Homo sapiens: one gene and its partners. The protein of the gene in region 1 purifies or fractionates together with the protein of each later gene. This does not show direct contact. Each region holds a gene or a part of one and is shown on either strand. Other genes may lie near its edges.

Region 1 (4,762 bases):
ACTCCTGAGCTCAAGTGATCCCTCGCTTAGGACTCTCAAAGTGCTGAGTTGACAGAAAAATTAGTTTTAATATGGAGAGGCAAATCCTTGGTATCTGTAGAACCCATCCTGAATTATCGAATGCTCTATAGTACATTTCAGACAAACAATACACTTAATATTTTTTTCTCTTCGTTTATCTATCTCAAGTCTCATACTCCACCTCTATCTAAAAAGAAGTTGGAGGGACTCTTTTTAGATACAGGTGGAGTATGAGAACTCTTTTGTTTTTGAGACCACATCTCACTCTGTCGCCCAGGCTAGAGTGCAGTGGCGCCATCACGGCTCGCTGCAGCCTCGATCTCCAGGGCTCAGGTGATTCTCCCACCTCAGCATCCAGACAGGCAGGCGCCAACACACCCGGCTAATTTTTGTATTTTTAGTGGAGACCAGGTTTCGCCATATTGCCCAGGCTGGTCTCGAACTCCTGACCTCAAGTGATCTGCCCGCCTCGGCCTCCCAAAGTGCTGGGATTACAGGCGGGAGCCACCGCGCTCGGCCTGGCAAATTTTCTTGCTGTGCTTTAAATTTTCTCCCTAGTCCTATTTTTTTCCTTTCTTCAGGAAATATGGTCTCTGTTCTGAATCCTTATCACAAGAAGCTCTTAAGGAGTAATGACTCCTCCCTCTTTGGTCAAACTAGGTTCTCTCCCTTCACTCAGATTTAATTTTTTTGGTCACACTTCCCCACCTTTTGATAGTTACAGTCAAACGACATGTAATACTTACTCTCCCAATCAGCCCTTGGCGAGTAGCAGGTCTTGTAGGTACAAGTAGTCTCTGCACAGTACACTCGGGCCCACCAAGTGAAGGTCTGATTACTTCTCACTCCTCAGCTTATCTAACCAAGCAACACTGGAACCCTCAGACCACAGCGTTCAAGTTGTCGCACAAAGGACATTATTCACGTAGTAAGTACTGGGGCCATTTTTTTTTCAGTCTGAAGTGTGATATCCCCCAAAACATTTCCTAACCAAGGCATGCTAGGCCAGGATAAATCGTGCCTGCACATATAAAACAGAAGGGTACAGTGGCTGCTCCAGTTTGGAGCACCCAGGTCCTCCTATAAGAAAATATGGTTTACATTCCCAAATTAGTCATTATTAATGGGAAGGGAGAACCAATAAGTGCATGTGAGAGTTGAGAGAAGACCAGTTGGGAAACTTTCAGATGTTTACTTTTGCCTTCTGACAGTCGATCAGCATCCATCTTTCACTCACATCCTGTAAAACCGAGTTTTGTTAAAGCAGCGTCCTGTTTCTAGAGTCTAGGATAGCGGGATTTAGTGAAGAGTCTAGGATAGCGGGATTTAGGGAACGGGTCTTCTCCACCTTGCCCAACTTGTGGCTTTTTGGGGTATCTCGCAGAGTTATAAATATCTAGAGTTCTCCCTAGTTTTTCTGATAGCCACAGCATCTGAGGACCCTGTCTTTCCCCGTCTTGAGGTTCGAGTTTCCTCACCTTGGTCAGTTTTCCCGTCTCTGGCTAGGCTCCGAAAATAGACTGTGCAGAGCGTGGCGTCTCTCCGTTGCTAGGGTAACAACTTTGTTTTGTTCCCGCCCCCCACCTGCCAACCTCCGGGTTCCCGCTTGACTTTTCTGGCCAATCATAGAAGAGTCTCATCTGAGACTGCACTGGAATCGACCAATCCGAGCGCGTCCAGGTCAGGGTCACTGGTCGCCCTTTCTAGTTAACCAGGTCGACCCCTTTTAAGCCTCAGTCTCGGTTAGCTTCACTTCAGCGGGAACCTGCCCACTAAGGAGGCCGATTCTTTCCGGCTCGAGCAGGTCCGGACCCGCCCCTCTGGCGTCTAGCAGTCTCGGAGGCCTGCCCGTATAGTTCAGGGCCGGACAGCGAGCGGCGGCGACTTGCCAGTAAGGTAAGTTTGTGGGGTTTTCGTTTGTCCCGTTCGTCAGCAGGCTTCGCTCTCTTTTGCGCTTTTCCCGCGCGTGAATTCCCGATCTGAGGACTCGAACTCCAGCCGATCTGGAGAGACGGGGGCAGAAGGGTAGGGTCAGTGGGCCGGGGGTAGAGAAGGTTTTGCTACAGTCCTCCACGCCCCCAGCCTTTCACGTCTCCCCCACGCGACAGAAACACGTGTTGTGCTTCTGTCTTGGCTTGTCGCGGGCGATAGTGTGTTTGTATGTGTGCAGGTGGGATCGCGCTTTTTATTCTCCTCTGTAGGCAAGGCTTCCGGGCCCCAAGTCCCCGGGGGAGCACCTGGTCAACTGCCACCCGGTTCCTGTGGGGCACTGGCTTGAGCTACGTGTCGTTCCCACTCTAAGGAACATCGCGACTCCGGGAGCTCTGCTTTTCCCGCCTCGGAGTGGAGAAAAGCAGGCGCGCCGCTCGCTTGCCACTGCTAGGGAATCTGGTTGTCTTAAGTTCACTTAGAGATAGAGTTGTTACCCTAGTTTCCCATAAATTCCGTGGCTTGGTTTTAAACAAAGGGGCGGCGGGGGGATGGCGTAATAAATATTTGGAGTATTCAGGACTGATTAGCCATGATCAATAGTAGGACCCCACAGAAGGTTTTAATGAATGGTTACTTTTGGTTATTCAGGTATTGGAATTTGATTATGAATGAACTAAACTGCTTCCCTTCTTTCTATATACCATGCATTTCTTAACGACCATCCCATCTGGCATAAGAGATAGTGAAGTTTGATTAATTTGTCCCTTCTACTTGTTCTTATCTACAGTAAACAAAAAATGGGGGTAGAATAAGGTTATTGGCTAAAGTAACGTTATTGGCCTTTTGGCCAAATTACCAATACCTTAATTCCGCTTATTACTGTGAATGATCAGAGTTTAGCTGTCTTGCATTTTGCTAATTCACTAGATACTTGTGGAGCTTAAATTATAGATATTATGCCATCTCCTTCTTCTTGCTTTTTTGTTTTTATTCTGCCTCACTGTGCATTATTCTAAGTCTGTAATGCTCAGCCGGTGTTTTTCAGACCTTTTGACTGTGACCGACAGTAAGAAATAAATTTTATATTGTGACCTAGTACACATGTAGACAATATATAACCGACAACTGTTTTTACAGAAACAACACTTAACACTTACTACTTGCAATATACTCTGATAATTTCCATTACATTTTAAAAAATGTACACCACAACACCCTAATGATTTGTCCCTAGACCTTTAGTTTTCAAACTTGTGTGTGCACTTTATTTAAAATTTATTTAAATAAATAATTTATTTAAAATTTATTTAAATAAATAATTTATTTAAAATTTATTTAAATAATTTATTTAAAATTTATTTAAATAATTTATTTAAAATTTATTTAAATAAATAATTTATTTAAAATTTATTTAAATAATTTATTTAAAATTTATTTAAATAATTTATTTAAAATTTATTTAAATAATTTATTTAAAATTTATTTAAATAATTTATTTAAAATTTATTTAAATAAATAATTTATTTAAAATTTATTTAAATAAATAATTTATTTAAAATGCAGATTGCCCTGGCTCCCTCCAGAAATTGGTTCTGTGGTCTAGTGGGACCCAGGAAGATATACAATATAGCATATATGAAATACTTGGTACAGTGTCAAGTGCACAGGTGTTCAGTGAATATTAGTTTTCTTCTTGGGGAACAAATGTTATTTATCTTTAGGGATATAATCAACTCTTCAAGGTTTCATCTGTCCCTGGCAAGGTGGCGTCCAATACTAAGAACTGTTTTCCCCAGGTAGAGGAAGTAGCGGGGTGGGGGATGGGTCCAGGATCTGAGATTAATCTTTAAGCAGTTGGCTTCCCTGAACAATGTCGGAAATACAGAAGCTTAGAGGTTGAGGAACATAAGGATTAGAGAGGTTCTGTGACTTTCCCAGGATTGTGCTGTCAGTAAGTGGATCTCCGAGACTAGAAGTCACTTCCTTATTCTAATATTCTTGTCCATTCTGCCTTGATAGCAGCCGCAATCTGGAGGCAGTGGTTGAAGCAGAAAGAGAGCTTCCCTAACTTGCCTATCCCAAAGGAGAGACAACTGAATTTGACTCCTAGTTCGGTTTTAAAGTAATGAAACTTCTAACCTGCACATTGTGCACATGTACCCTAAAACTTAAAGTATAATAATAAAAAAAAAGAATAATGGTGAAATAAAGGTTTTTTTAAAGGGAAAAAAAATAATGAAACCTGAGAGATCTAAAATATTTTTTAAAATACACCCAAAGGTTTCTGTGGATTTATAGCTATGAAAAATGGATATAGTTTAGCTAATTCTTTTATATAGAGTATTTTAAAACACTGGTTAAATAATTTATTAATGCAACATTGAAAGAAATTAAAGATGAAAAATCTCACTCAATTCTGCTACCATAATATAACTGATAATTCTGTTCCCCTCCTATCTTTATCCACATGTACCCATGTTTTTACATGATTGTGATCCTTTTTCATATACTTTTTTGTTATTTTTATTTAATACTGTTTTGGAAATTTTTTTCTGTGTTGTGATGATCTTTATATTTTGCATTATTAACAGCAACCTAATATTTCGTAGAGTGAGTTGGCTGTAATTTACTTAGCCTAACTAACCAACAACAGAAAATAAGATACTATGTGTCCTTTGAAAAGGGAGATGTAGCCAGGTGCGGTGGCTCACACCTGTAATCCCAGCACTTTGGGAGGCTGAGGCGGAAGAATCACTTGAATCCAGGAGTTCAAGACCAGCCTGGGTAACACAGTGAACCCCCATCTCCA
Region 2 (4,132 bases), on another chromosome or scaffold:
ATGTCTTTCTTTTTTGTTCACATTTTTCTTTGGTGGAATAAAGTGGATGAGCTGGGAGGAGACTCAAACTTACTGAAGCTAGAGATGGGTGAGATCTGGGTTTGGCAGTTGGTAAGGACTGCAGCAGGAGAGTTATCTATGTATCCCAGGGGAAACCAGTCACTAAAATCCTACCCAGAAACTGAAGAAAGTGTATCTTAGGTCACTACCCAGTCATCTGGTGAGATAATTAAGCAGGGATTCATTCCCCATTATCAGGCCTATTGTCTAAGAAGTTTTTAGATTAATAAACTCTGCTTAGCTTCCATTGAGTTTAAAGAAGAAGTGCTCACTGAGATTCCAAACCAAATCTGCCAATTTCCAAGGATGCCTCTCCCCTGCTAGATTCTGAAGCTAATCCACGAGACCAAGAGCTCTCATGTTCCTTTGAGTCTCGGTCACCTCAACTGTAAGAGGAAGATAATAATATCACTTCATAGGGCTGTTCTGTGGACTAAATGAAGTGAGATAGGTAAAGTTCTGAAAAGCTAGTAAGTTACAGGCCTGACAGATAGTAAGCGCTTAATAAACAGCAGCTTTTATTTTAATGAGGATGGTAATTCTTCCTTGAAATAAGGAAGTCTAGCTCATTTCCAGGGATAGATATAACTACGCATCCACTTAAAAAAAATTCTTAGTCTACAGCATAGTAATTCTCCATGGAGGAGAGGAGGGATGGGGAGAAAGAGGGCAACAGTGGGACTTTTTCCAGTTTCGAGACTCCCCATGTTAATGAGGCATAGCCTATCCACCATCATTCCCACACCTCCATTAAGCATCACAAGGAGTGAGCAGCTGTTCCCAGTGACAGTATGCCTTATCCACCAAGTGTGTTGAGGCAGAAGAAAGGGTCTGCTACCCCTGGCAAACAGGCTGCTGCCATTGTTTTCTGTGATAACAGGAAAAAGGCCTTCTTTAAGAAAAGTTTACTAGATAGCAGAGTCAAGCTACATTTTCCACATGGTTCCACTTTTAAACCATACCATTCTGCTGAATATACTGCAGAATGTTAGCCTGCCAACTTTTAGTAGAAAAGAATACAGAAGAACGCGAATATACACGCTTCAACTGGATATGTGTGAAAAGAAAAGGAAACAAACATTGATTGCATCTTTACTACGTTGTACTAGGGGCTCTACTTGTTCTTGCATTTAATCTTTATGACACTGGAACGTAGGTTATCCTTTGCCTGGTTTAGAGATGAGAAAGTGGTAACCAAGGAAGGGAAAAAAATTACAAACTCTGACTTTGGGGAACTGCTACTGTATGAAATGTACAGGAAGAAGAAAAGAGACTGACTAGAACCACAGCAAATTATAGGATATAATTAATACGGTTATAAAATGTTACCTGAAAGGATTGGGCATTTCCAGATACAGCTGAGTGGGAATCGAGAGATGACACTTGCATTAAGGCAGCAGAAGGTGCCTGGAGCCCAGTAACAGATGGCTGAGGTGCTAAGATAAAGGGAGACATTTTCACTGTTATCCACCCTTGCTTCTTGGTGTGAGTCTAGACTAGCACCTTACATACTATCATGCTTCAGACTCAACTATTTTCCTTGCCTAGTCTCCCTACACTCAGCTCTACTGCAATCTCAGGAATGAGCCAGTGGAAGGAAACTGGGTGCTCTCATGTGCTTCTGACTCAGCCCTAGGATCCCACCCGACAGGAAGTGCAGAACACACCCAGGGAGATGTCTCAATAGCTGAGTGCAGATTTCCAAAACTGACAGTGCAACACAGCAGAAGTCACAACCAGCAGCCAGGTCCATCTCTGGGTATGAAAATGCCTTACCCAGGGACAAACTGACAAGCGTCACACTCTTACATTTACACTTTAGTCCTCAGTACTGAAACAATGCAGCCTAACAGTTTAAGGAACAGTGACGATAATTTTCATGCTGACCCAGTTCAAGGCCACAGAGCCTCAGAGAGGTTCCTTACCCTGTGAGGTCATCTGTGGTAACGCTGGATGGGCCGGATGAAGAGAGGGCTGGACGGACGGAGTCACCACAGGCTGCCCACCTCCTTGCAGAGTGTTCACATCCTGAAACAGGAACAAGCGTTTGGGTTACTCTGTACGGGGTCCCTCATTGAAGACTGAGGCTGACTGTCTGCCCTAAACCTGCTTCCAACACAGGATTTCTAGGCAAAGAAGAGGAAGGAAAGGTAAGCGGAAGGCCAAGAGTTGAGGGTGTGGGTTGTGGAGAAAAAGCACTCTGCTATGCAATAAAGTAAGAGTCCTTCTCCCTATAATCATATTGAATAAGTAAATATAGTTAATTTCCACAAATATTCTCAGAGGTTGATGTTCTATTGTCTGAAGCAGCTAAACTAACCACTCTTCAGAATGTATCATTTTCCAAGCCAGTAACTGCCTTAAGACAAATCTAATCTATTCCCACAAAAAAAGTGGTCTTTTGCAAGAAATAATCCAGCCTCTTCGCTTCTTACAAATCATCCCCATAGTCCTCAAGGTACTCAATGAAAATCAGATAACGTAGGATTCACTGCACCTGATTAACATGCTGTTTTTGGATAATATAGTTTTAGGATGTTTTTCCAACATTCTTTATTTTCATAAAACCAAAGCTTTTCATAAAATCAAAGCTATAACTCTAAACAAAGTTATTCTACCTCCTGCTTCATATAAGAAACAGAAAATCTTGAGGCACAATATACAGTGACTGTAATCTGCTATGCTATAGTTCAAAGACCAAAGTTTCAGACATTCTTTTACTTTAGAACTTCACCTTGTCCCCTTATATTCTCTTCTAGAAAAACATCCCAGTTTTAGATTTCTACAGCTCTTAACCAACCTAAATGTCTAATAACAGAGTGAAAGGAATTATAATAAAATGATATAATGGAACACTGGGTTTCCTTTAAACCACTTTATTTACTTAAATCATTTATGTTAATGTAAATGTTTATGATACAACATTAGGTTTAAAAATCAGGTTACAAAGCAATATATAAAGATGAATGCCCTTTTTGTTCAATATGTTTCTTTTCTATAATTTTAAATTATTCTAAAATGAATAAGTAGCACATAAAATTTTTAATAAAAATATTCTTATTTACACTGCATTTCCAGACCAGAAAAAAATAATCCTATAACAATAGGCCTCAGAAATCCTATCTTCCTTTAAGATGTTAAATCTACATAGAGCTTTTCCAAGAAATAAAACAAAAATGTAAAATATAAAGTATATTCCAGAAAAAATTTTTTCAAGACCATCGCCCTTTCCTTGTTTTCTATCAAAGTAAAAGAATACTAAAAATCAGTCTAAGTTATATATTTCACTTCAATTGAGAAAGGACGATTATATTCAATAAAGAACTAACCACTAGAGAAGAATTAAGTTAAAATTAAGTTACTTTATAGCATACACCAAATTCCAAATGGATTAAAAATTTAGATCTAATTATAAAATATTGATCAATATCTTTAAAAATACATGTGATATTTATAATCTGAAAGTGGAGAGGCTTTCTAAGCATAATGTCAAAAGCAAATAACAAGGGGAGAAAATTGACAGACTTGAATTCAATAAAATTATTGAACTTCTAAATAGAAAACAAACACAAGAATACCACATACAAAGTCAAAAGACATACTAGTTGGAGCTTTAGTGATAGGCAACATCAGCGAGAAGACCAACATTTCCCAAAAGAATCTAAACATTCGCTCAATAAATATGAATTGAACACCTGCTATGGATTGGGCATCATGCTGCCCAGAGAGTGATCTTTAGTAACAACAGAGATTCTAGTAAAGAAGGCTAAATTAACTACTGAAAACTGCCCAGTTCTTGTAAAAGATCTACAAAATTGCTTCCATCTCTCAGGGAAGTACTAATCACAGTAGAAACACATGTACCAATACCAATCTGTATCATTTTGCATATTAGCTCTCTAAATAATGATTCTGCCTTAGAGAAAAAACAATCACTCCAACCAAATGAAAAGAAAGATGATGGCGACATCTGTACTATTCATTCTAATACAGCCAGGGGGACATACTTCGATTTCTGAATCATTGGAATCCAGCTGTGGTGGAAGGATGGGCAGCATGGGCTGGCCCATTT
Region 3 (4,132 bases), on another chromosome or scaffold:
ATTACGTCGTCTACGCATTTCAGAGAAACATTAATGTCTCCTACCATGGTTTTGGATTCATCCAATTCCTCTTATCATGGTTTTGGACTTAAATGATTTTTTTTTTTTTGAGACGGAGTCTCGCTCTGTCACCCAGGCTGGAGTGCAGTGGCGCAATCTCGGATCACTGCAACCTCTGCCTCCTGGATTCAAGTGATTCTCCAGCCTCATCCTCCCGAGTAGCTGGGATTATAGGCACCCGCCACCACACCCAGCTAATTTTCGAATTTTTTTTAGCAGAGATGGGGTTTCACCATGTTGGCCAGGCTGGTCTTGAACTCCTGATCTCAGGTGATCTGCTCACCTTGGCCTCCCAAAGTGCTGGGATTACAGGCATGAGCCACCGCACCCAGCTCTGGACTTAAATGATTTCTAAAGGTTGTTTATTTACATGGCTCAAAGCTATGTAGTGCAGGCACCAAGATTCACAATCTATATGTTCGTGATGACTTTCCCTTTTATCAGGAACTTCTTTTGCTCCTTTTAGTGCTGTTCTCCTTAAAGTCTTTTTTGCCTAAACAATTCTCTACATCCTTTCTTTTTGGTAGCGTTCACCTGCTATGCAATTTCCCATCTCTGTGTTTTCCAATTCCTGTGTTTTTGCTTCTTTCTCTCTATAGTAGTACGGAAGTTATAGACCTCACTTCTGTTCCTTTAATGGCTAATCGACACACATACCTAAACTTTTATTTTGTATCAATATCCAGAATTACCCTTTAGCTCTATCCTCATGTCAAACAAGACAAAGGCCTGCACACCTACCTCCCTCCTTCCCCTTGTGCCTCACATATTTAGATCATCTGGGATTTTAGTTTCTTTTATTTCACCCCAAACATCAATTATTTAGATTTTATGTTAACTTTGGGGTGCTTGGACAATCCTGCTGAGGCTAGACCACAGGGATTCTTAGCCACTTGTTTTCCTGAGTGTGTGAACACGTAGGACCTGGTGGGCTCTCCCTGGAGAGCATGGTCAGGGCTGGCCCACTCCCAGGGGACAATTTAGAAGATGAGAGAAAACAAAGTATGACATATTCCTTCAGCTTTATATCCTGCACTGTTGTTATCATTTTCTAGGCTTGATGCTTTGCACTCTCTCATAGAAAAGGACGGAAGCCTGCCCCTTGGTGTTCCAAACAAGGAAGTAAAGCCATAGTGGATGTGTCTGTCTATACTTCTGATTGATTCATTGATTGATTTGAGACGGTGTTTTGCTCTTGTCGCCCAGGCTGGAGTGCAGTGGTGCGATCTCAGCTCACTGCAACCTCTGCCTCCTGGGTTCAAGTGATTCTCCTGCCTCAGCCTCCTGAGTAGCTGGGAGTATAGGCAGCCACCACCATGCCCAGCTAATTTTTTATTTTTAGTAGAGATGGGGTTTCATCATGTTGGCCAGGCTGGTCTCAAATTCCTGACCTCATGCGGCCCACTCGCCTCGGCTTCCCAAAGTGGTGGGATTACAGGTGTGAGTAACCGCACCTGGCTCTTCTGACATCTTTAGTGCACGACACGAGGCAGGTCACCTCGGCAAAGAGGCAATGGCCAGTTCTGTCCACAAGGCTCCAGTGGGAACAAATCATGCTTGTGGGGTGTGAGGGTGGAAGGTCTCAAATCTCTGCTGGCCCTCAGAGGGTGGAGATAAGAAGCCCTTCTTATATCTGCCTCCTAGAGGTCTGACTTTTTCACTTGCTAACTAATAAAAAGAATTTATTAAGGCTGGACATGATGGCTCATGCCTGTAACCCCAGTGATCTGGGGGATCGCTTGAGCCCAGGAGTTAGACACCAGCCTGGGCAACAGAGCAAAAACCCATTTCTTAAAAAAAGAAAAAAAAAAAAAAGCTGATAGCTGAATGCGGTGGTGTACTCCTGTAGTCTCAGCTACTTGGGAGGCTGAGGCAGGGGGATTTTGTGAGCCCAGGTTGAGGCTGCAGTGAACTATGATCATGCCACTGTGCTCTAGCCTGGGCAACAGAATGAAAACTCATCTCTTTAAACAAAAAAAAAAAAGAACTTATTAATCCACATATATCTTCAGAGAATGTCAATGGTCATGCATAAAACTGTTCAGTCAAGAAAAAGCAACATAGGCTTATTAAGAGATACAGAGGTAAGCCAGGTGCGGTGGCTCATGCCTGTAATTCCAGCGCTTTGGGAGGCCAAGGCAGGAGGATCATGAGGTCAGGAGATTGAGACCATCCTGGCTAACATGGTGAAATCCCGTCTCTACTAAAAATACAAAAAAATTAGCCGGGTGTGGTGGCAGGTGCCTGTAGTCCCAGCTACTAGGGAGGCTGAGGCAGGAGAATGGTGTGAACCCGGGAGGCAGAGCTTGCAGCGAGCCAAGATCCCGCCACTGCACTCCAGCCTGGGGGACAGAGCGAGACTCTGTCTCAAAAAATAAATAAATAAATAAATAAATAAATAAATAATAAAAAGAGATACAGAGGTAGCCGTGAGAAGTAGTTTGAAGAACTAAGTGACTGCCTTCAAGGAGTGGAACATGGAAACAGGTCACAGCAGAAACATTTGGCTTTTCATTATGCGTTCAATTGACTGTTTTGTTAAATACAACATACAAGGAGCATTTTGACTTAAGAATTCAAACATGCACACCAGAAACCTAAGTTTAGCAGTTTCTTTACTTATTGCTGTGCTTTTGTATCACACTCTTTCCTCTTACAGTCTCTTGGTAATTCCTTCTCTTTTTTTTGAGACAGAGTCATGCTCCGTTGTACCCAGGCTGGAGTGCAGTGGTGCGATCTTGGCTCACTGCAACCTCTGCCTCCCGGGTTCAAGTGATTCTTGTGCCTCGGTCTCCCAAGTAGCTGGGATTACAGGCGCCTGTCACCATGCCCAGCTAATTTTTTGTATTTTTATTAGAGACACGGTTTCACTATGTTGGCCAGGCTGGTCTCGAACTCCCAACCTCAAGTCATCTGTCCCCCTCGGTCTCCCAAAGTGTTGGGATTACAGGCGTGAGCCACTGCACCCAGCCAGGTAATTCCTTGTGAAGGAGTTTTTGGATGATAAAGTCTCTGGGACCAACTCCTAAATCTTTCCTTCTTCAGGATCTATTCTATCAGCCAACCGCTGAGATTTTTATTTCAATCTATTTTTCATTTCCAAGATCCTTAATAGAATCGTTTTCATAGCAACCAGTGTCTGTTTCATGGATACAATATACTCTTATTACCTGAGACTATTCATTGCACATACATATTTATAGACTACACCTCCTCTTTCTCATAGTGACTCTGTCTTCTAGGGTGTCAGGAGTTGGTTGAGTTTGGTGATGCTCTTTCATGATACTGGTTTACCTCAAATATCAGTTCTTAGTTTGATGCTTATTTCTGGGACTACAGGCACCCGCCACCAGGCCCGGCTAATTTTTTTTTGTATTTTTAGTAGAGACAGGGTTTCACCGTGTTCGCCAGGATGGTCTCGATCTCCTGATCTCGTGATCCACCCACCTTATAGGTGTGAGCCACCATGCCCGGCCGCTTATTTCTGATTTTGTACCCTGCCCTGCCCCCTATCCAAACATACCCCTGACTCTGGCTTCCGTCTGCTGCCCCTGGTTATCAGTGGTCATGAGACCACTGGGCCATGTGCAGGGGTCATGGGGCAGAGGCACCAGCCCCCAGGCCTCTCAGGGCCTCCTATTCCTCCAGCCTAATCACCTTATCAACCACCTGTAAAGTGCCCCTGGGCCTTCTAAGTCTGGATGCCTTCTTACCAAGAGGGTCGGTATCTGCTTGCATCTGTCAATCTGACAATCCTTCAACATGCACACTGGTTCAGACCACAGACCCTGGATTTGAATCTCAACTCTGCCTCTTACTAGTTGTGGATCCTCAAGGCAAGAGGGCTCTTGGAGCCTCAAAGTTTCTTGTCTGTAAAATAAGCATAGCAAGAGACCTGCCTCCCAACGTTGTTTATGAGGATTCAACCAGCTAGTGCTTAAATCAGTAATGTGCTTAGAACAGTACCAACTGCACAGAAGGCACAAGTGTTTATTAAATAAAAAGTATTCAATAAATGATGCTGGGACAATTAGGTTATTTGGGAATTTTTAACTTTTAAGTTACATGCCTA
Region 4 (4,132 bases), on another chromosome or scaffold:
TTTTCTGAACTTGCTTTCCCTGAAAGTATAGAAGATGAACATGAAAATGGAGTAGCTGCTTTCATATAAACTGTGTCATTTAACTCAGTTGTTACTCCTGTTAAAAATCCATTAGTGTCCAAAGTCTGGGGCTGCAAATTAGCAGTACCGTCCTTTGCAGCACCTGACTGTGAGCCTGGTGAACATACATTTTGTTTGATAGGCACCAATTTTAATACAATATGCTGTTTTCCATCCATCATCTTGAAGCCCATAAACGTAGCATTATAGTTAGGGGAAACTGCTAGTTTATTATTTTTCATCATTACATTTTTCAGTGTAGGTCCTAGTACAGCAGTCTTCATGAAACCTGAACTAGCGTTTGGTCCCTCTTCAGCTCTATTACCTTGCCCAGTGGACAGAGGAGTTGGCTTCTCTGACTCTGATTCAGGGGCTTTATCATTATTCTCACAGTGTAGTCTTTCATCCTTTTCTTCACTTAAATGCTCTTGAACAACATGGCTCTGGTCTTCAGATTTAGTCTGTGTTTTGTTCATTTTCTTAAGCACTTGAGTGTTCTTTTCTATACTTCTGTCACTTCCACTGTTAATTTTCTTACGTTTCCAGAACGTCTTCCTTGATGCACCTATTTTATATCTTTTCAGTATTAGCTTAAGTCCTGCAGAAGTCTTTGCCATTCTTTTTTCATATTTGTCTTTTTCCAGTTTTTCTTTTGCATATAAATGTTCTTTGTGCAAAGTTATAACATGTCTTACAAGGTGTTCTCTCCTGGTGGCACCATAGCTACAATATTGACAAGTGAAGGGAAAAGTACCAGAATGAATATGAAGGTGCTTCTGAAGCTCTCCTTTGGTAAAACATACATGATGACATTTACCACACTTATAATGAATTTCATTATGTCTATGAATGTGCTGAACAAATGTGCCAACATCCTGGGTGGAGAACTTACACTTTTCACATTGAAAATTACCATTAACACAATGTGTGGATGTGAAATGCTTTGTCAAGTTCAGTAAAGTATATACACTCTCATTGTTACAAATGTCACATTTTACTAAAGTGCTTCTATGGGTTCGTCTGTGTTGTTTAAATACCTGAAAGTCATTTGCTGAAAAGTTGCACATTTCACAAGGATATGAAGGTAATTCGCCATGGTGCCACATTTGAAAGTGTTTCTGCAAATCATTTGGGCTATATCGAGTGTTGTCTCGGCATTTTAAACAGCTGAAATTGAGTATTTTTGCAGACATTTTTACACCCTCTTCTTCAGCTCTCTCAGACTTATGAAGCAATGTACACTCCTCTACACAGCTTACAGTCTTTATACTGATAGATTTTCTTGCAGTCTGCTGTTTACTCTGAAATAATTTTCTGTATTTGTCAACTTCATGTTTCAATAGGACTTCATTTGGAATATTTATTTTTGGCAAATCAATTTTCACATTTTTTAGTGCATAATGAATACTTCCTGAAATTTTTGGTTTAGGTGCCGACCTATCAACTATCTCATTTTTCACATCATAATCTTTTTTTAAAGTAGTTTGTTTTTCATCACAAAATAACTGTTTCTGTTCAGATGGCATGATTTAACCAAAAAAGTCCCAATTTCTTTTTTTCTGAAAACTCTTGAAGTTATCTGTAATTTAAACAGGAAACGATACTGTGTAGAGACATCTTCAATATACAGGATTTTTCCCACAATAACTCACCTAAAATTAAACAAAGAATTGAAATTCTCATCACAAAAATAATAGTAAATTCGTATCTGTAAGTTCATTTTGGCACAAAGTAGGAATGTTAATCAAAAACATAAATTAAATATACAAAAGACTTTTTAAGTATTTTAAGAACAGCTTACCAAGAAGTAATAGTTTGAAGTAAAAATAACACTAATCTGGAAGTCAGGAAATGCAAGCTCTAGTTCCAGCTCTGCTGTGTGACCTTGGGAAAACTTCAACTTCTCTGGACCTCAGTTTCCTCATCTAAAGAAAACCACAGTTGGGTAAGTACGCTCAAGCGCTAAGATTTTTATATTAAGGTGATAATACAGTTTTTAAACAAGATTTTAAAAATCTTAGAATCCTAAGAAGTTCCAATTACACACATGTGGTTTATCCATATACTATTAACTTTTTCATTTGCTTAGTTGATCTAATAGCTATTCCCTGTGAGAATCCCAACAGACTTCTCTCCAGATTTTCTATTTCCTTAGTTCCTCAGGGATAATCTACAATTAAAACAAAAGCTTCATTCATCTAACGGAAACAACCAAAGACGGTATCTGCTTATCATTACTAACAAGTTAGAAACCAAACAAAAAGAACAAAAAGGAAGAAATTAAAAAGAACAGCAGCACCATTTCCCTAGTGTAGTCCTAAAGTCCATCTACTCATTACCTTTCTGGTTCCCTACCATTTTGGCTATATGAATTTATATCCTCAGAACTCAAGCCAGATGACAGCAAGGAAAAGCCCTTGGCAGATTAGAACATACCCATCACTACCTACCTGCATTAATTCAAGCACTTACTGGTCATGTTACTTTAGACAAGTCTCAACCTCTGTGTCTCAGTTCCTTCATCTGTAAAATGGGGGGAAAAATTAGTACTTCCCCTATGTCTTTCACAAGGTTGTTGTGAAGATAAAATGAGAAAATATATGTAAAAATATCCTTTAAAGTGCCATATAAATCACAGCTACCACTATTACTCTATGTGATTACCACGTATGGGACATAACAATATATTGTTGAGACAGGAATCTGAATACTGAAGGTTCAGTCATTAATATATCAAACTGTATTATTAGAAAAATTACATGTTTTTAATTTTGTGCTTTATATATATATATATGTATGAATAGACAAAATCAGATAAGCTAAACAAAACATAGTATAAATCACATTAAGCTCCTCATCCATAATGTCTATCCAAAGGTCTCAGCTTTAAACTTCAATTAATCTAAATACCTACAAACTTTACTGTTTTAGAAATCCTTTACTGAGGGAATCATTAAAAGTTGAATTACATATTAAGAGATCTATAATAAATTAATCAGAAGGGTACCAATTATTGAATTGTTTTACATGCCATGACTAATACAGTAAAATGTGAATCCAGAATGGGATGTTTGTCATAAAACTTTAGTATTACAAAGAAAAGGTAACACAAGATGAAGGCCTCATGAAGGGTTTTTAGGGCCCTAAAAGAAGAAAAGCTGAAAAAGTAACTGGAACTGTCAGGAAACCAGGAGAAAAGGCTGAGAAGAATTATCTGATGGCTATTCTTAAACTAAGATGGGGCTTACAGATGATTTCAGAATGACTAGCCAAGCAGAGCACTTGTCTTTCTAGGAGAATGAACTAGACACTAATTGAAGGCTCTACAATCCAACAGTCAGGTTTTAACTCACTGCTTTGTTAAGAGAAAAGAAAAGAAAAAAAAGAAAAGAAGGCAGGAAGGAAGGAAAAAAAAGAAAAGAAGGAGGGAGGGAGGGAGGAGAAAGAAACGAAAGAAGGAAGGAAAGGAAGAAAGGAAGAAAGAAACAGAGAAAGAGAAAGAAAGAAAAGATTGATGACAGGGTCTCACTCTGTCGCTCAGGCTGCAGTGCAGTGGCACCATCACGGCTCACTGCAGGCTTGACCTCCCCAGGCTCAGGTGATCCTCCCACCTCAGCCTCCTGAGAGCAGCAGGGACTACAGGCATGCGCCACCATACCCAACTAATGTTCTGTATTTTTTGTAGAGATGAGGTTTCGCCATGTTGCCCAGGCTGGGTGTAGAAAGAATTATATGAGTTGATTAAAAAGAAAATAGTATTACTAAATCATGTGTTCAGTTCTCCTTCAGGGACTAGGGCAAGAGTGGGGAAATGGAATATATGAAGAGGTAGGAAATCAAACTGTCTAATCTCGTAAGATACTCTAATATGTGACTCAGGAGTCAAAATGGTTGTGAAAACATAACAGACAGCTTTTCCTTCTCTAATAATGCCTCACTTAGACCTTGAGAATAGGATTATTAAAATGTAATACATACTTTTTCTGTTTGTGGGTATCAGAAGATTTTAGGTGCCTAGGAGATGGAAACTCAGTATTTCCACTGCTTATGTCCTATTTCACATTTGACACCT
Region 5 (3,304 bases), on another chromosome or scaffold:
CAAAAGAAAGCTTTCTCAATTATTTATTTTTGAGTTGGGGGGGTCTTGCTATGTTGCCCAGGCTGGACAGGTGATCCTCCCACCTCAGCATCCAGAGTAGCTAGAACTACAGGTACACCCACTGCAACTGGCTTGAAGAGAGTTCTCAACACACTTGTCACCTCCCATGTTAAGAGGGCAGAGATGAGTTATGTTACTACAATTTCATAGGGAAAAGATTGCTTCTTGGACCCTTCAATTTTGCAATGGGGAATAGTAAGCCTATTTACTTTCTTGAAGTGGCCAAAAGAAGTTGAACTTGATTACAACAGCTTCTAATAGGTCAGTTCACTTTTACCCCAAGAAGAAAATTTAGCAAAGTCAAGAGGGTGGTATGTTTTCAAACACTGCAGCAACCCAGATGGAGGACTCCGGAGCCTTGATGTTTGGGCTGGATGTTTTGAGATCCGGTGAAGGATTCTATGTCCATAATGTGCGAGCAGGGGTTCCTCCCACCCCCAACCATGGGAGTCAGGAGACTCTAGCTTAGGGTTTCAGGTTACTTCTGGGTTAGGCAAATGACCACAAGCAGTCTGGCCTTGCCAATCAAGGAATGGGCCACAAGATAAATGGAGACAGAAACCAGGCAGAGAGGGAGCTAGAGAACCAGTGGACAGTACAGGAGATAACTTTATTGAAACGCAAATGGCATTGAACAGATGAATCTTGCTGGGAGGAGACATGCCAGATGGACAGAGGGCCCAGATTGGGGGTGGCCTCAGTGGTGATGAAGGAAGGCCTCTTCAGCTGGCTCTGGCATGAATTTTATTTTTAAATAATTTGTTATTTAAAATGAATTACTGAGGGGACAGCCCGGCTCTCTCTTCATGATTGTTACCGCAACTATATACAACAGTTTGCTTTCCAGATTCAATTTCGCTTTTTCTACATTAGATATAAAAGGGGGTAGGTTGAAAGAGGGGAGGGTCAAATAAAAAACATAAACACACAGACATACACATATCCTGGTTTGGGATTTTGCACCCAATAACTTAAAAAAAAAGTGTTGCAAAAACTTCTGCCCACTCTCCACCTGAGGAACACCATGCATTTGAGAAACACGGACTCTGTCACATAAACGGTGCTGCCTAAAACAGTATGGAGGCGGGGAAGGAAGCTAGCAGGGGTTGGAATTCATTTTGAAAAAAGATTGTTTTGTTAGAAAAAGCAAAAACAAAAAAGCATTAGAAAGTGGGAGCCACTGCACAGCAGTAGCCTAGAGACTGGCTGCGATATGGTAGCTCTGCCTTGATATCATCTTCGTGTCTTCAGGCATAGAGAAATGGCAGAGGAGCAGTAAGACCCCACAGGAGATGGCCAGAGGATCCACCATCAGCCTTCTGGGGACTGAGGAGGTGATCTTAGTGGAATTATTTTATACTCACCTCCCCCGGGGTTTAGTCCTTCCTCCAAACACTTAGTTCCAGGGCGCAGGAGACCTGTTACTAGCACTGTATGTTTCTTTGTGCTTTACCCAAGTTCTCATACAGGGAAAATTGACAAACTTGAAACAAAACCAGTTCTAAACAGCCTCATCTCCTCCATGGCCCAATCAGCTATTTTATGAGTTTGTAAAGATATGAAGCTTTTTTCAGATATTTTTTAAAAAGGATCTTATTTGGCAGGGTGCTGTGGCTCACGCCTGTAATCCCAGCACTTTGGGAGGCTGTGGCAGGTGAATCACCTGAGGTCAGGAGCTCCAGCACAGCCTGGCCAACAAGGCAAAACTCCGTATCTACTAAAAATACAAAAATTAGCTGGGCGTGATGGCGCACGTCTGTAATCCCAGCTACTCAGGAGGCTGAGACAGGAGAATCGCTTGAACCTGGGAGGCGGAGGTTGCAGTGAGCCGAGATCGTGCCACTGCACACCAGCCTGGGTGACAAAGCGAGACTCCTTCTCCAAAACAAACAAACAAACAGAAAACAACAAAAAAAGGATTTTATTCTGTCACCTTGGCTGAGTACTTCTGTATCCAGGTCCTGCTGTGGGGAAAAGAGAGGAGGAGCACAAGGACTGAAGTGCCCAGGTCTGTGTCTTCATTATGCAAGACTCTCCTATGAGCTGAGTGGAGTGTGGATAAGGGGCCTTCCTGGGATACTGGAGCCCTACACTGTTAGCTGCCATACAGAAGGAGGTTCTGGCCTGGTTCTCAGGCCCAGCAGTGCCCTTTATAACTCAAATAAAGGAGAGGGATGTTGCTGGGAGAACACGTTGTCATGGAAATACAAATTAGATTTTTTTTTTTTTTTTTACTTTTTCCATCCTATTACATAATCAGCTCGGAATAGATACAAATAATTCGGCAGAAGAGCAATCTGGAAGAGACCTCCAACTGCTTTTCCTTGTTGAAGCCCCTTTGTGTGCCAGGTAGTAATTTCCAAGGCATAAGGTTTTTCTCTGAAGGTTGTATTCAACTAGGAAAGACACAAACATTCTCCTAACTTCCACCCAAAAGCACACATACCTTTCTTTGTTAAAATCATAAATGGAAAAACAGAAACACAAGGAAGCATGAGAAAGGTGACTTTGAAATTAATGTTAAAGTCTGAATGACAACCTAGAACCTTCTTATTTTGGGCCCCAAAGCCTCTCAGTGTGGGAACTCCAATACTATAAAGGGCTTTCCCTTTAAAACAGTTGAATTTAGTGTGCATCAGAATCACCAGGAGGGCTTATTAAAACGTGGATTGCCGGGTCCTCTCATTAGAGTTTCTGATTCAGCAGATCTGGGATGGGATTGAGAATTTTCGTTTCTAACAAGTTCCCAAAGGCTGCTGATGCTGCTGGTCTTGTGCCATACTTTGCGAACCACTGCTTTAAGGAATGAGAAACCAGGGGATCACTCACTTACTTCCATGACCACCCTTGTCACAGAAAATTCTCCATGGTATAATCATGAAGAAGAATGACCAAACCATCAAACTGGAAGGATCTAGTATACACAGGTTGAATTTTCAACCGTCTTCGTGTCCCTGCAGCTTTGGCATTTTGATAGGTATCCTCCCTTCAAGGCTACATCTTCTGGGTTACTACCACCTTTCCCAGGATCTGTGGCCGGCAGTGCTCACTTCCAGGGCTAGGCTGAGCAGACATGCACCCATGCACCCTGGTGGCCCCATATATCCGTAGTCAGGTTGATTCAGGACTTATTAAAATATAAGGCTGATTGGATTATAAGGGGCAATATCTTCAGGCTTTGGCCTTTGGGGAACAGTGTTCATAAGATCATTTTATTACTATGGCCTTCTCAGTGGAGCCATGA
Region 6 (4,132 bases), on another chromosome or scaffold:
ATGAAAAATTGGGAATAGCCAGATACCAGGTCTGTCCTATTCCTCCAGAATTATAGGTACCTCCAGTCTCTATAATCAAGTGAGTCACTTATCCTTTAGGAAAAAATGTGTCTTGATTACGCTACAGAATGGCTGCAAAAGGGCAGGAGGAATAGGGTTAGGAAGAAATGAAGCCTCCCCACTCCCCAGTCCTGTGAATTTGGCACAGAAGGGAACCACTCACAACTGTCTCCTCCAGACCCTTGAGGTCCTGCTTGGACTGCTCATGTCGCTCGTACAGAAATCTGTAGCAAGAGAAATAAGGGAAATGGAAAGATCCCTCAGGACTCTCCTTCCTCCTGCCTCTTCCTCTATTACTTTTATCTCCATTTAAGTATTACTATTATTGTTATTTTGTGAAACAGGGTCTCATTCTGTTACCTAGGCTAGATAGAGTACAGTGGCACAATCAGGGCTCACTGCAGCCTCAACCTCCTGGGCTCAAGGGATCCTTCCCACCTCAGCCTCCCAAGCATCTGGGACCACAGACGTATGCCACCATGCCCAGCTAATTTTTGTATTTTTAGTAGAGACAGGGTTTTGCCATGTTGCCCAGGCTGGTCTCGAACTACTGAGCTCAAGCAGTCCACCTGCTTTGGCCTCCCAAAGTGCTGAGATTATAGGTGTAAGCCATCGCACCCAGCCTATTATTATTTATTACACAAGTTACTCATGTTTACTGTGCAAAAATTAGAAAAGAATTTTAAAGAGAGACATAAGGTGAGTTTTTATAAAAAGCCTATGATTCTACTATTTACAGATCAAACCAACATTAACCTTCTGGTGTCCACCTTTCTAGACTTTTTTCTATGCCTACATATCCATGTATACATTTTTATGGGATCATACCATGCATATGGTTTTGTAACCTGTTTTTACACTGAATAGAACACGTAAACCTCCTTCCATACTGGTGAATACTCAACGGCAGTCTTTGCTGAGAGTGTCCTTTTGGTCCCGTCCCTACCCCATCATATTTTTCCCATGAGTCACCCTATCATGTCTGCATGTGTGTCCTGCCTCTGCAAGCGTGTCTGAGTTCACAGTTCTGAGCCTACAAGGCTGTAGTTTTACAGGTAAATCCATGCCACTCACGTCAGCTCCTGCAGCTTGGTGCTCTTCTCGTGTTCTTCGCTCTTCAGCTTCTCGTAGTCAGCCTGAAGCTTCTCTAGCTCTAACTGGAGCTTCTGATTTAGGCTACAGAGCATCAGAAGGTAATGGAGATGGGGGAGAAAGATGTTAATGAGGGGGAAGGGAAGGCCAGCTCTTCAAACTTCTTCCTTTTTGAACGAGTGAGTCCAGTTAGAATTGATGTGTCCACCTTCAGATACCAGAGGCAGACTCAGGCCACTGTTTCCATGACAGAGCCAGGAACCCTGACCTCTCTAATCCTGGGACCCTCAAGGATAGGGACTAGTCGTTATTCCATGTGTCTCCTGAGGTGGGGCTACGAAGTTGTGGCATTGTTGAGGGAATGACACATGGATGTTAAAGAATCAGACCCAGAGGGGACATGTGAGTCAATACAGCAAGGTGACAGGACCCGGGAGGGGCTGGAGTCGCCCTTGGGAACCCTTACTCTTTGAGCTCATCAATGGTCTTCTGCTTCTCGTTGATCTCGTCCCGGAGCCGGGCCAGCTGCCGGTGATGGGCCTCCCGGTGACTCTCCATCTGCAGCTCCAGAGCCTTCTGCAAACAACCCCACCCCAAGCTCAAAGGCCAGACTCCCAGCAACAAGCTCTGTGAGGGCCAGCACAGCTTTCACCACACCAGGCCCCAATTGTCCCTGACACCTTCCTTACTCACCTTCACTTCATCTGCATCCTGAGTGTCAGGCTCCTTGTCCTTCAGGGCCACTTCATGCACAGTTTCTAAGGGAAAGAGGGGAAGACAGCTGACATCAAACCTACCTCTTTCGGAAAGAACTTCACGTTGTGACCAGAACTCCAGGCAGGGCTGGGAATGGACCCACAGGGATGTTCTTCTGTGTTAGGACTGTCCAATTTGATATAGCAGGAACAGAGAACAAGGGTGTATGGTTAATGTAAAATGAGCTACATGCAAAACCTTGGCTAACATATGAGTTGGCATCCATGATTTCAAGCTAATGCTTTGAGTGAGTGATTATTGGGGTGATTTATTTTGATGTTTCTGACTTTTCTGCCCTGGACAGTGGGATGGAGGTATAAGAAGGCCTCACCCTGGGCCTGGAGCTTGGCCAGCTCATCGCTCAAGGAGTCATAGGACTCTTCCAGGTGCCGCTTCTTTAGCTCCACGCTCTGCATGTATTCCGTAAGCGAGCGGATCTTGGCCTCATGCTGGTGGGAGAAAGTTGGTGAGAGGAAGAAGATGGAGCAAAGGACACAAACCCAGGCCACACAGATCTCCAACTCCAGCTCTCCTCCCAGCCCTCCCTCCTGCTACACTTCCCATGAGGGTGCAGGGTTGGGGGCCATTCCTATGGGGCTCTTCCTTTAGCTCCCATGGCTCAGGGGGCAGTACCCGCCCTGAGCCTTTACTTTTTTGGCCCTGATCTGCACCCCTGCCACCCCAGCTTTTCTGTCCTTGATTTCACTTGACCCCAGAACTTTGACATAAAGGTGGGTGTTAGGAGTTTTAGCCATAACCCCAGAGTAGCCTTCTTTCTCCCATGGCATCTGAAGGTTCTCAAACTTAGGCACTCACCTGAGAGATGAGGAGCTGGCAGGATGAGAGCTCCCGCCCGGTCACTTCCATCTTGCGGTGACACTCCACCTGGAGGTTCTCCAGCTGCCGGCACCGCTTGACCACAGACTTGACTTCTGATTTGATTTTGCTGATGTAGAGTCGGGCCACAGTGAACTCCTCCTCGATGGCCCCACTGATCTCCACTGGCTAAGGTGATTAAAGGAGGAAGAGATGCTTCTTGGCTGCTGGGAAGCTTTATCTGTTCCCTCCCACCTTCTACCTACCCATACACACCCACATACGCAGGGACTCAAATGGGATGGGTATTTTCCAAACGACCTTTAGCAGCTCTCTATCAGCGGCATTTCACATTAAATTCCTCCGCCTGCATTTAAAAATCCAATTCTGGCTGGGCGCAGTAGCTCATGCCTTGTAATCTCAGCACTTTGGGAGGTCAAGGTGGGTGGATCACCTGAGGTCAGGAGTTCGAGACCAGCCTGACCAACATGGTGGTGAAACCCTGTCTCTACTAAAAATACAAAATTAGCCAAGCATCATGGCACATGCCTGTAATCCCAGCTACTCAAGAGGCTGAGGCAGGAAATTGCTTGAACCCAGGAGGCGGAGGTTGCAGTGAACCGAGATCACACCACTGGACTCCAGCCTGGGCGACAGAGTGAGACTCCATCTCAAAAAAAAAAAAAAAAAATCCAATTCTGGGCCGGGCTCGGTGGCTCACGCCTGTAATCCCAACACTTTGGGAGGCCGAGGTGGGTGGACTACGAGGTCAGGAGTTCGAGACCAGCCTGGCCAATATGGTGAAACCCTCTCTCTACTAAAAACATAAAAAATTAGCCAGGAGAGGTGGTGTGTGCCTGTAGTCCCAGCTACTCGGGAGGCTGAAGCAGAAGAATTGCTTGAACCTGGGAGGCGGAGGTTGCAGTGAGCTGAGATCACACCACTGCACTCCAGCCTGGGCAACAGAGCAAGACTCCATCTCAAAAAAAAAAAAAAATCCAATTCTGACAGTCCCCCACTTACAAATAAATCTTATAAAGCAACATGATTTTCTTTTGATCTCCTTGATCACCCAGATTATTCTCACATCCACAGATTTGCATATTTCATTCTGAACTCTGTGCCTATGCCCCACCTCTAACTCCTACTGCAAGCACTGCTCTGTTGCTGCTGCTTTTTTTTTTTTTTTTTGAGACAGAGTCTCCCTCTGTCACCCAGGCTGGAGTGCAGTGCCGCATCTCTGCTCACTGCAAGCTCCGCCTCCCAGGTTCACGCCATTCTCCTGCCTCAGCCTCCTGAGTAGCTGGGACTACAGGCGCCCGCCACCATGCCTGGCTAATTTTTTGTATTTTTTTAGTAGAGACAGGGTTTCACTGTGTTAGCCAGGATGGTCTCAATCTCCTGACCT
Region 7 (4,576 bases), on another chromosome or scaffold:
CCAGGGATCCGGAGTACTGGTTCCAAATCTAAGGGCACTACTAATTATACAATTCCGTTCGTCAGGAAGGCAGACAACGATTCTCTGGGAAATGGGGAAGGGGTGGGGACGGAGGACGTTTCCACATCCTTAAAGGAAATTCTCAGGCTCCTAGAGATGCCCAAGTTTTTTTGCATGACAAGTAGAGACCAGCTCTCCGGGGAGTTCCCCGCTCCGACCGAGCGAGTGCGCGGCCGCGATCTCCCCGCCCGCAGCGGCAGCCGTGGGGCCCGGCCCTGCCCTCCCGACCGCCTCCCTCCCCCGTCGCCCCGCGCGCCGCACATCCCTCTCTCGCTCACTGGCTCCAGACTGGTTTTTCTGGTTCAGCCTCCCTCCCTGGGACGCGCTGGGGGATCCGATGACGTCGTTGGCTGAGTCTCTCCCTCTTCCTCCCTCCCTCCCTCCGCCTCTCCCCCCGTCCGCCCTCGCCGCGCACTCCTCCTAGTAACTTCTGTTCGGGGAGGCGCTGCCAGGAATAACCCGGTGCGTCCACAGCCCGGGAGGGGAGGCGGCCGCTGCGGCTCCCGCACGCAGACAGCTGCGGCCCGGGCCTCGCGGCTCCCGCCTGAGCCCGGCGGCCCCTGCCCCGGGCCCATCTCCGTACAGTGTCAGAAAAATAAATAAAGGCAAGAGGAGCCTGGGCTGGCGGTCGGGATCTTTTCCCTCCCTCCGCGCCCGCCCTCCCTCTGTCCTTAAGGAAATGCTACCAGACACCCCCCACCAGACACGCTCAGCCTTGGCGAGGAGCGGCCGCCGCGGCAGCGAGAACAAGGGCACCAGGGGGGTTTCCTCCCCCTCCTCCTCTCCCTCCTCCTCCCCGTCCTCCTTCTCCTCCTCCTCAGCGGTGACTTTCCAGGTGAGCGGCCGCCGCGGCTGCGAGGATCCCCCTCGCCCGCTGGGGCTCGGGCCGCCGCGTCGCGCCCTCCTCCCGCCCCTGTCACCCGGCGGCGGCCGGGAGCTGACAGCCGCCCGAGGGGCTCGCGGCCCGGAGGCGGGCGGCCGGCGGGAGGCGGGCTGGAGGTGAGGGGGTGGAGAGGAGGAGAGCGGGGCGCCGCCGAGCGCCGTCGTTCCCCGCAGGAGGGTCTCCGCACAAACATCTTCGGTGACTGTGGCACAAGTCTTTGCCAAGTTGTGTCTTGGACCTTGACGCTCCACGGAGCCCAGAGCAACTTGGAGGGTCTCCCGGCTCGTTCACAGCGTTCCTCCACGTCTCGCGTCTGGGGTGCTGGGTGCAGCCTCGGGGTGCGCGGAGGGCGGACCGGCCACCGCGAGAGCGGAGCGGCGGGAATCTAGGTCCCTCCTCGGCTCGGTAAGTGGCCTGGACGCTGGGTTTTTCCTGCCTCCTTCGGCGCTGGGAGCTTGTTTCACTTTATATTGGAATCGCCGCCGCCGAACTCCGTCCCCCGCTCCCCGGCGTGTGCCCCCAGCCCCTTCCCGGTGGCCCGAGGGTGAGGGTCGGAGGGGGCGGGGATGGGGGAGACCGCGGGAGGGGTGTCGGGCGCGTGGGGAAATGCGGGGAATACCCTGGCCGCGGATCTATGCAGATGAGGGGAGGCTGCTTTGCGTAATGTCCTGGGGGGAGGGGGCCGCGCGGGAGCGCTGGAGGCAGGAATGTGCCTGCTTACTAATGAGCGACGTGCACCGGCGCGCACGGCCCGGCCACCGCTGCGGCTGCGGCGGCCGGCGGCGGCCCGTTGTCAGGTAGCGGGGGAGGGGGCCGCGGCGCGCGGCGCAGGCGGCCGGGCGGGCTGGCGGCGCGAGGCCCGGGCCGCCGGCCTGCGGCCGAGCGAGCGCAGCGAAGGCGCTGGCTCTGGGCATTTCAGTGACTCCCTTTACCTCCCGGGCAAGGAAGGAAGGAAGGAAGGAGCGAAGGAAGGAAGCGAGGAAGGAGGGGACTGTCTCGATGGAAGGTTCAGGCGGAGGCGCCCTCGCCTTGCGGGTGCACCGGCTGCAGAGCGGCTCTGGCCGCTGCCGGCTGGACCCGGGCGCGTGGAGACGGGTGGGGGCGGTTTGCATGCGTGTTTGTCTGTCCGTCTGGCGGGGGATCGGGAAGGGACATGTGTGTTTGGGCTGTGCACTGTGGGGAACTGGGTCTGCGCCTTTATGTCTGTTCCCTGAAGTGGGTGGAACGTTGGCCCGTTCCGGGAATGTTCCATGACGTGGTGCAGCCACAGGAAGGGGGTTAACGAGGGGCTCTCTGCCGCGGCGGCACTGCCGGCTGCTATCAAAGCAGATGTGCTGCTGCTGCTCCTCCTCCTCTTTCACCTCCTTTCACCCCCACCCCCCGCCTTTCCATTCTGTGCCTCTGGTACTGGTAGGGGTGAGACAGGAAAACATTGCTCTGGGTGTGTGCGTGTGTGTGTGTGTGTGTGGGTGTGTGGGGGAGGGGGTGCTGATGTGCATGTGTGGGGTCTGTCGTATTTGGTGGGGGGGGGGGGTGGACTCCAGATCCGCTCTGCTACCCCAGCTGTTATCACAGATCGGTGCGCTTTATACGCATGTGCCTCCCGCGTTCTGTCCCTCTTACATAACACATCCAGTGCAGCAGAGGACATGAGAAAATGCGACCCCAACCCTCCAAGCCCAAATTGGGTGAGGGGATAGAAGGTCAGGAAGCGTCCCTGGGTGTTGTCCTTCAGGGACTTGGTTCCCAGTGGGGGAAAGGAAGAAGGGAAGGAGGGTTTCTTCAAGTGGCTCCTCTCATCTCTGACTTAAAAGCATCTAACTAAAAAGGACTGCAGGCACTAGTCTTCCCTAACGGGAAAGCTTGTAACTAGCTACACCAAGGGAACGGGGGCACTTTAACCTCGGGAGTGCGGAGAAGAGAGAGGGTCCTTAATCAAGACACTTGGAGGAGAGAAGCAATAATGTGTGGGCGGCGGATGGGGGGCGCTGGGGATGACTTCGAGGAGACCAGAGGAATCTCTTGATAATAGGTTTCACTGGAGGCCTTAGGACACCTGTAATGGCTTAGCATTCACACAGGAAGTTGTGTGTGCAACTGACATTGCAAAACCCTTATTCTCTGCAGAGTTATTTAGGCCTAAAATGAATATAGAAAGGCTTGTTTCCTGTACTTTCATTATAATGGAAAATTTGAGCTGATTTTTCTCCTTCCTTTTCTGCCATTTTAAAAATAACTCAATTTACCTCCAAATGAATATTGGTACTCGCCCCCAACCCTAAAGCTGGACCTCAATAATTCACAAGAGATCTGTGTTTTTCTAGCATACCCAGAGCCCTAGTCAAGGGCTATTGATTTTTCTCCTCAATACAGTTGTTTCTTTTGTAGTGCATAATCAAGCCCAGACATTACTTGAAATATTAATAAGATCCATTTTAATTAAATTTGCAATGATCTGTCCTCCTAGAAAAAGGCCATTTAACTTTATTAGAAACGTTTCCTCCAGTGATATAGTAATATTTGGTGATATTTGCCCTTGAGCAAACCAAGTTATTTTAAATATTTGCACATATAGATCCCATATGTTTGCTACATATGTAGCAAATGTCTCATTGCTTTTTCACCTTATAAGAGTGCCAGAAGCAGAATTTTAACGAAGTAGACTGTGGAATGAGTAGATTGGGTTTGATTTTTAGGATATAGGCCAAATGGTTTATCAGAACAGAAATGTCCTTTCTGTGACTAAAGTGGGTATCATTTTCATTATTAAGAGAAAATTCCCTGTGGAACCCTAAGGAGTCATAGTACCAAATGACAACTGTACATTTGCATTGTGAGCTGAAAGGGATTTACCAGTATTTACTTAATGATAGTGTGTTTGTTTCAAGTGTCATAATCCCTTTGACCACTAGGTTTGAAATATGCAGTATATTTCTTATATACAGAAATGTATTACAATGATGAATCTTTTGAACATTGAGACAATTTCTTGCGTCGAGCATAGGTCGGGTATAAAACAAAATTTGCTTATTTGCATCTGTATTTTTGTTACAGTGACTGTATTTTATGTGGCTAACTTTATTAGAGATGGCTTATATTTATACAAGGGTATTCAAGAGTAAATTGATGTGTGACTGATTCGGGGACAATTTTGGGAATGGTGGTATATTAATGATCTTACAAATGTAAGATCTAACTGATTTTTAACTGGTTAGATCCTTGTAGAGGTGTTTGGTAAAATACCACTAAAGTACATAAAACATTTCTATATTCCTATTTAACATGGAATGTGAAAAATTTACTATGTGTATATTATCACATAGGAAAATAATTCTCTTTGATTACATTGAAAGATTAAGCAGCAGAATATTTTGATTGATCAGGCTCCTTTGCATGAGATGTGTTTGTGAATGTTCTTGTTACCATGAAAACAAAACAGAGGACAGTATATAGGGAGACGTTCCTTGTGGAGTAATGGTGCATGTGTCTGCTTGAACTTTTGGCACTTTGTCACTATTCAGAAGATCTGTTTGACTCTTTTATGCTGATTTAATTTAAAATGAAAAATCTTATTCCAGAATTTGCCATTTTTTTTTTTCAAAGCAGGGCTCATTTTAACAGCAGCAATAACAA

What was found.
Region 2: the proteins of NUP62CL (region 1) and FKBP15 purify together in Homo sapiens (affinity purification with mass spectrometry; one large-scale study listed by BioGRID and IntAct). This does not show direct contact.
Region 3: the proteins of NUP62CL (region 1) and SUGP2 purify together in Homo sapiens (affinity purification with mass spectrometry; one large-scale study listed by BioGRID and IntAct). This does not show direct contact.
Region 4: the proteins of NUP62CL (region 1) and ZNF518A purify together in Homo sapiens (affinity purification with mass spectrometry; one large-scale study listed by BioGRID and IntAct). This does not show direct contact.
Region 5: the proteins of NUP62CL (region 1) and NAV1 purify together in Homo sapiens (affinity purification with mass spectrometry; one large-scale study listed by BioGRID and IntAct). This does not show direct contact.
Region 6: the proteins of NUP62CL (region 1) and KIF5A purify together in Homo sapiens (affinity purification with mass spectrometry; one large-scale study listed by BioGRID and IntAct). This does not show direct contact.
Region 7: the proteins of NUP62CL (region 1) and HIVEP2 purify together in Homo sapiens (affinity purification with mass spectrometry; one large-scale study listed by BioGRID and IntAct). This does not show direct contact.

Annotation. Positions count from the first base shown.
Region 1 is NC_000023.11:107,203,428-107,208,189, reverse strand, and holds the start of NUP62CL (nucleoporin-62 C-terminal-like protein), read left to right. Parts: upstream 1-1,756; 5' UTR 1,757-1,917; intron 1,918-4,762.
Region 2 is NC_000009.12:113,186,404-113,190,535, forward strand, and holds part of FKBP15 (FK506-binding protein 15), read right to left. Parts: coding exon 4,068-4,132; intron 2,089-4,067; coding exon 1,986-2,088; intron 1,497-1,985; coding exon 1,390-1,496; intron 1-1,389. UniProt on the Homo sapiens protein: May be involved in the cytoskeletal organization of neuronal growth cones. Seems to be inactive as a PPIase. Involved in the transport of early endosomes at the level of transition between microfilament-based and microtubule-based movement.
Region 3 is NC_000019.10:19,012,773-19,016,904, forward strand, and holds part of SUGP2 (SURP and G-patch domain-containing protein 2), read right to left. Parts: intron 1-4,132. UniProt on the Homo sapiens protein: May play a role in mRNA splicing.
Region 4 is NC_000010.11:96,153,777-96,157,908, reverse strand, and holds part of ZNF518A (zinc finger protein 518A), read right to left. Parts: intron 2,584-4,132; 5' UTR 2,533-2,583; exon of another isoform or gene 1,986-2,532; 5' UTR 1,862-1,985; intron 1,713-1,861; 5' UTR 1,587-1,712; coding exon 1-1,586.
Region 5 is NC_000001.11:201,824,317-201,827,620, reverse strand, and holds the end of NAV1 (neuron navigator 1), read right to left. Parts: 3' UTR 652-3,304; downstream 1-651. UniProt on the Homo sapiens protein: May be involved in neuronal migration.
Region 6 is NC_000012.12:57,573,865-57,577,996, reverse strand, and holds part of KIF5A (kinesin heavy chain isoform 5A), read right to left. Parts: intron 2,914-4,132; coding exon 2,725-2,913; intron 2,358-2,724; coding exon 2,240-2,357; intron 1,911-2,239; coding exon 1,846-1,910; intron 1,729-1,845; coding exon 1,619-1,728; intron 1,237-1,618; coding exon 1,135-1,236; intron 285-1,134; coding exon 224-284; intron 1-223. UniProt on the Homo sapiens protein: Microtubule-dependent motor required for slow axonal transport of neurofilament proteins (NFH, NFM and NFL). Can induce formation of neurite-like membrane protrusions in non-neuronal cells in a ZFYVE27-dependent manner.
Region 7 is NC_000006.12:142,942,263-142,946,838, reverse strand, and holds the start of HIVEP2 (transcription factor HIVEP2), read left to right. Parts: upstream 1-1,662; 5' UTR 1,663-1,740; exon of another isoform or gene 1,741-2,038; intron 2,039-2,249; exon of another isoform or gene 2,250-4,576.